2 linked regions of the Homo sapiens genome follow. The protein of the gene in region 1 purifies or fractionates together with the protein of each later gene. This does not show direct contact. Each region holds a gene or a part of one and is shown on either strand. Other genes may lie near its edges.

What was found.
Region 2: the proteins of FDX1 (region 1) and NR4A2 purify together in Homo sapiens (tandem affinity purification; one large-scale study listed by IntAct). This does not show direct contact.

The regions. Positions count from the first base shown.
Region 1 is NC_000011.10:110,457,378-110,461,188, forward strand, and holds part of FDX1 (adrenodoxin, mitochondrial precursor), read left to right. Parts: intron 1-3,811.
Region 2 is NC_000002.12:156,323,760-156,326,963, reverse strand, and holds the end of NR4A2 (nuclear receptor subfamily 4 group A member 2), read left to right. Parts: intron 1-43; coding exon 44-246; intron 247-635; coding exon 636-814; exon of another isoform or gene 815-817; intron 818-963; coding exon 964-1,220; 3' UTR 1,221-2,527; downstream 2,528-3,204. UniProt on the Homo sapiens protein: Transcriptional regulator which is important for the differentiation and maintenance of meso-diencephalic dopaminergic (mdDA) neurons during development.

The DNA of each region.
Region 1 (3,811 bases):
AATTGAACACAATTATAATGGAAAGTTTCACCTATTAGAACAGAATTTTTAAAGAAACTTAATATATAATAGTAATTATGTTAAAATGAATAGCTCTTTTTCTAAGTGTACCTTAAAGTAATCAGAGCTTATTCTTGTTATTAATTAATAGTTACTCTTAAAAGTGGTGAGATTTACAGTAGCAAGTGACATCAAGTGATATCTTATTTTTTAAAAAAATTATCTAGTCTTTTGATTGGAGTCAATGAAGGTAGCTAGCTGATATACTATTTCAAGGGGTAAGATAATGAGGGCATATTACTTAATTAAGGTTGGCTTTGTTTAACTCTAGTTTGGTGACCTTAATGACAAATAATTTTTTAAAAATTAAAGATAGTAATAATAGTTTTATTTCATGTGTATTATATAGCTACAATTTTGTTATACACTTTTAATATAAACTACCTCATTTAATCCTCACAAACATTTTCAGGTCATTTGTATTTATTTAGAGAAGAAGAATCATTTTGTTCCTTTTATAGTTCATTTCCCTCTTGGTGGATGTGAGACTGATAACCCTGGGAAGAGAAACTGGTGAAATAGTATCTCTTTGGACACCAAAGCAGAGTGGATTGTGGCTACTGTCTGCCTGTCCTCTCACATCTTCAGTGCCGTGTTCTCTATGAGCACCTCCTTTCTTCCCCTTAACACAGAAACTAAATCCAATGACTGTATTAGTTTGGTTCTGAGAATTGTGTCTCTTAATAAGAGAGTTAAATCATAGCTAACTGCTTGCTCTTTTATACAGTTACAATTTGTAGATGCCTGTAATAGATAATATTCTAATTGAAAAGAAAGGGAAAAGGGAGAGCTACAGTTAGATACAAAAGGTCTATAATAAATGTAAGCTAGCAAGAGTATTGATGATAAAATTTCCAAGTTTTACAGCTACACAATAGAGAGCAAGGAATAGCTTTTATGGTGTTTTATAGCTGGTATTCTTAAGTACACAGCATTTTAGTAGAAATACTTTGTGGGAAAGAGTATAATGGGTTTCACAGGTAGCATTTACAAAACACATTGACATATTTGGAATGGAAAGAATTTTGCTCAAAGCTAGTAACCACATGTAAACTTATTTTTAGGGTATCAGAAAGTTTCAGAAAAAGAAATAAGGAAATTCAGCCTTTTAGTTCATATACTTACTTTAAATACTATGTAAATGTTTTTAATTTTTAAGCAAAAACACCATCGTTTCTTTTTTTTTTTGAGGCAGAGTCTTGCTTTGTCACCCTTGCTGGAGTGCAGTGACATGATCTTGGCTCACTGCAACCTCTGCCTCCCGGGTTCAAGCAATTATCCTGCCTCAGCCTCCCGAGTAGCTGGGATTACAGGTGCCTGCCACCATGCCCCGCTAATTTTTGTATTTTGAGTAGAGACGGGGTTTCACCATGTTGGCCAGGCTGTCTCGAACTCCTGACCTCATGATCTGCCCACCTTGGCCTCCCAAAGTGCTGGGATTACAGGCGTGAGCCACCGTGCCTGGCTTCAATGTTTTATTGGTTGTCCTTAACCTTGATTGTTGATGGATGGATGGATGATACATGGACAGCCTCATTGTTTTTTTCATACTGGTTACCTATCTCCCTTTTCCCATTAAAGGAGCAGCCATGTCTTATTTTACCATTGTATCTCTAATGCCAGATTCACAGTAGAGGTCACCAACTGCTTGCGGAATTAATAGTTGATGGAAAGGGAGATTCAGGAATTACCTGTGAGTTTACATTGGATGATTGTAATTGCTCCCTGCCACCAGTTTGCATGGGTAATCTACACAGAGGCCTCAGATTCCTTATATGTAAGGTGAGGATAATAATAGTACCTACCTCACAGTATTGCTGTGTGGAGTTAATGAGGAAATATATGTGAAGCTCTCAGAACAGTGCTTGGTGGAGAAAGCATTCATTAAATGGTAGTTGTTAGCATTGTAACTACCATCATATCGACTTATCTATTGGGAACTTACTGTAATGCCTAGGCACTTAAGTATTATTTCTAACCTTCAGGGTTAGGCAGTACTATCACCATGTTGTAGGTGGGGAAACAAGGTTTAGTTATCACGGATTTGCTTAAGGCTGCACAGCTAGTGGGTAACACCCCTGATTTAAATCCAGCTGTGTTGGGCCCCAAAGCCTTTAGTCTTTTACTATTTCAAGCTGCTTCTCTGAGTTGAAAACCAAACCCTAGAACTAAAGTAAACCTAATACCCAGTATATTTTCACCATCAGGGATATGTGGCAAGAGTAACTGGAGAAAATACCTTCCAGGTTTGCAGAAGTGTCAAAATGTTGTGGGACTCAAAGTGTGAAATCAGGGGAGCCTTGTTGTTTGTCTCCTTCTCTAGAAGTATGAGACACCATCTATACTGGTGGATCTTGGAGCCAGAGATCTTTAAGGAGGTAGAAGAAGTAGGAGAGTGAGAAACTAGCCACAGAGCGCCACTGCCTTATTCTCTAGACTGAGCAGGAGCTTTTTGTTCCGTCTCTTTCTGTGTTCCCATAACAGATTTATTGTTCTTCTATCACCACACTTGTGGTACCCTGCCATGTTTCACTGATAACTGTTTCCATCTCTGTTTCCCTTACTAAAGTAACCGTTCCTTGAAGACCAGCATCATCTTGCTATCTGTGTATGAATACCAAGAGTAACCAACAGACTCTCTAGAGCTCACTGCTGTCTTAACGAATTTGTCCAAATTGGCTTGCCACTTTTTCTCTCTTGCAGACAGAGCTTAATGCATAATTGAGTATTGTGAAGGCTGTTTCCAATTCTACAAATAAAGAACTCTTGATAGAGGGGATTTTTTTTCTATTAGTAATCAGTATTTCTCATGGTTAAGCACACTCCTTTACTCCAAAACTTCCTGGTGGTTCCTCCTTGCTCACCAGTGAAACACAGGCCCCTTAACTGATATTCACAGCTGCCTGTGGCTCTGGCCGCTTTTCTGGCCCATCATTCCCCTTGTCCTTGTTTACGCTGTGCAGCAACCAAGCTAAAACACCCATCTTGCTTTAAATGTGACTTGAGCTTCTTTGCATTGTGTTGCCTTTGCCTCACATACTTTTCTCCTTTATCTTGTACTAAATAGTAAATCCTACCTATCCTCCAAAGCCCATTGTGGACAACACCTTCTGTGGCCAGAAGTAAGGGCTTTCTTCTTAGACCTCTCAGAGCCATTTGGCTTTCTCCCTCGGTGGCATTTGCCACAGTCTCACATGTTAACTATCTGAATGTGTCTCATCTCATCCCTTTGATTGAAAGTTTACTCATTAATGCTGGCATTAGCAACCAATCCTCACAGCAGTCCTGTGAGGAATTCTCCTGCTCATCTTGAAGATTAGGTTAGGAAACTACCATTTGGTGAGGTTAAGCAAGTTGCCTGTGAACATGGTATATTAAGTGCTGGATTCTGCACTGCTGGTCTCTTTGGCTGTAACTCTGATGCTGTCTCTTTAGTGCATCCCAATGCCCAGAAAATAAGAAGTGTTCAGTAAGAAAGTGTGGAGTTGATTTGCTCTTCCTCATTGACATTTAGTGTTGTGCCTTTAGGTGCTCAATAAATGCTTCATGAGTACATTAATAAAACCAAGACCTGAATATCAGATTTCATCAAATTGAAGACATGTCAATTGTAAGATTAACATTTCTTTTTATATGCCACTAAGGAAGATAAAAGCACTGCTAATTCAAATATGGCACAGTCTTATCACTTAACATATTTTCTGAATATTGAAAGAGTTATTTAGACTTATCTAGACATAGATTTGAATTA
Region 2 (3,204 bases), on another chromosome or scaffold:
TTTTAGAGAACCTCATTAAGTGCTTTTTAAAATGAAATTCCAGTTCCAGGCGAACCCTGACTATCAAATGAGTGGAGATGACACCCAGCATATCCAGCAATTCTATGATCTCCTGACTGGCTCCATGGAGATCATCCGGGGCTGGGCAGAGAAGATCCCTGGCTTCGCAGACCTGCCCAAAGCCGACCAAGACCTGCTTTTTGAATCAGCTTTCTTAGAACTGTTTGTCCTTCGATTAGCATACAGGTAATAAGGGAGGGAGGGAGACAATCCAGGGAGGCTGTGAGAGAAATCAAGAAAGGAAAAGAAAGGGAGGAAGGGAAACCAGAGGGTGGGGTAGAGAAAAAGACAGAATAGGAAATGGAAGTCGGAGAAAGGAAGAAAAAGAAAGAAAACAAAAAAAGACGAGAAGAAGCGAGCCCAGAAGCCTTGGATGAATGGAATGGAGGTGGGATAGGGGGCGTTCTTGATTGTTATGAAATTAAACCCTTTCAAGGTCCACTGGTCTACATTTTATTAACTCTTCAGTAATTAGGTGACTCTTAAATCCCTCATTTATTGCTCTTCAAGTAATTAGTTGTTTAGCTTTTCTCTCTCTCTTTTTCTCCCCTCTCTCTCTTTGGTATTAATTGCAGGTCCAACCCAGTGGAGGGTAAACTCATCTTTTGCAATGGGGTGGTCTTGCACAGGTTGCAATGCGTTCGTGGCTTTGGGGAATGGATTGATTCCATTGTTGAATTCTCCTCCAACTTGCAGAATATGAACATCGACATTTCTGCCTTCTCCTGCATTGCTGCCCTGGCTATGGTCACAGGTCAGTACTGCAGGCGCAGGGCGCTTCCCCTCCAGAACTGCCTAGCAGGATTTGTCCTGAGTTTCCCTTGTCACAGATTCTCCTTGGTTTTGCCAACTAGCTAACTGTCTTGTACATTCTTCTTTTGTTTCTGATTATGTTTTCTGCAGAGAGACACGGGCTCAAGGAACCCAAGAGAGTGGAAGAACTGCAAAACAAGATTGTAAATTGTCTCAAAGACCACGTGACTTTCAACAATGGGGGGTTGAACCGCCCCAATTATTTGTCCAAACTGTTGGGGAAGCTCCCAGAACTTCGTACCCTTTGCACACAGGGGCTACAGCGCATTTTCTACCTGAAATTGGAAGACTTGGTGCCACCGCCAGCAATAATTGACAAACTTTTCCTGGACACTTTACCTTTCTAAGACCTCCTCCCAAGCACTTCAAAGGAACTGGAATGATAATGGAAACTGTCAAGAGGGGGCAAGTCACATGGGCAGAGATAGCCGTGTGAGCAGTCTCAGCTCAAGCTGCCCCCCATTTCTGTAACCCTCCTAGCCCCCTTGATCCCTAAAGAAAACAAACAAACAAACAAAAACTGTTGCTATTTCCTAACCTGCAGGCAGAACCTGAAAGGGCATTTTGGCTCCGGGGCATCCTGGATTTAGAACATGGACTACACACAATACAGTGGTATAAACTTTTTATTCTCAGTTTAAAAATCAGTTTGTTGTTCAGAAGAAAGATTGCTATAATGTATAATGGGAAATGTTTGGCCATGCTTGGTTGTTGCAGTTCAGACAAATGTAACACACACACACATACACACACACACACACACACAGAGACACATCTTAAGGGGACCCACAAGTATTGCCCTTTAACAAGACTTCAAAGTTTTCTGCTGTAAAGAAAGCTGTAATATATAGTAAAACTAAATGTTGCGTGGGTGGCATGAGTTGAAGAAGGCAAAGGCTTGTAAATTTACCCAATGCAGTTTGGCTTTTTAAATTATTTTGTGCCTATTTATGAATAAATATTACAAATTCTAAAAGATAAGTGTGTTTGCAAAAAAAAAGAAAATAAATACATAAAAAAGGGACAAGCATGTTGATTCTAGGTTGAAAATGTTATAGGCACTTGCTACTTCAGTAATGTCTATATTATATAAATAGTATTTCAGACACTATGTAGTCTGTTAGATTTTATAAAGATTGGTAGTTATCTGAGCTTAAACATTTTCTCAATTGTAAAATAGGTGGGCACAAGTATTACACATCAGAAAATCCTGACAAAAGGGACACATAGTGTTTGTAACACCGTCCAACATTCCTTGTTTGTAAGTGTTGTATGTACCGTTGATGTTGATAAAAAGAAAGTTTATATCTTGATTATTTTGTTGTCTAAAGCTAAACAAAACTTGCATGCAGCAGCTTTTGACTGTTTCCAGAGTGCTTATAATATACATAACTCCCTGGAAATAACTGAGCACTTTGAATTTTTTTTATGTCTAAAATTGTCAGTTAATTTATTATTTTGTTTGAGTAAGAATTTTAATATTGCCATATTCTGTAGTATTTTTCTTTGTATATTTCTAGTATGGCACATGATATGAGTCACTGCCTTTTTTTCTATGGTGTATGACAGTTAGAGATGCTGATTTTTTTTCTGATAAATTCTTTCTTTGAGAAAGACAATTTTAATGTTTACAACAATAAACCATGTAAATGAACAGAATTTTGTCTTCTTTTTGGGTCAGAAAAAATAATGACTAAACAGCAACATAACATACACAGTTGGAGATTAATTTGGGATAGGTCACTTATTCAATATCTGAATTTTAAACAGCCTAAATCTATTCTGGCAAAAGAAATCAGGTGAACCAGAATAATTATGCAGATAATTCAGTAAAATATTTTTTCTTAACCAGAATTTTCCAGTCTGGTGACCAATATTTATTAGGATCAATTTAGAATATCTCAATTCTTCTGTTAACTTTGCAAGTAAGTGTAGCTTTCAGGAGAGAAGTTCTGGAGACCCAAAAGCTTTTGAACTTGAGCAAGGTCAGAGTCTAGTCAAGTACTTGTCTTGCACAGTGATTAGGAAGTATCTTTTTAAGACTCAAGAAGTCAACATGGATTTGAGGAGTGTTGTATGTAATCTCCGATTTTCCAATTTCTCAATTTACAACTGTTGGGTCATGGAGAAAGGGCAAAGCAGTTCAGGCCCTTTGGGCCTTGGGTCACTTTGGCACAGAGCAGAACTCAGTAGAGGTAGTTCTTACAACTCTTTATTTTCCTCATTCAGTGGATGGTGATGAGGTGCAATTTGTAGTTTTAGAATAGAATTTCTCCCGTGTAAGTTTCTCAGGTACATGATAAAATATCTATGTGTTGGGTCTTGGGCCTA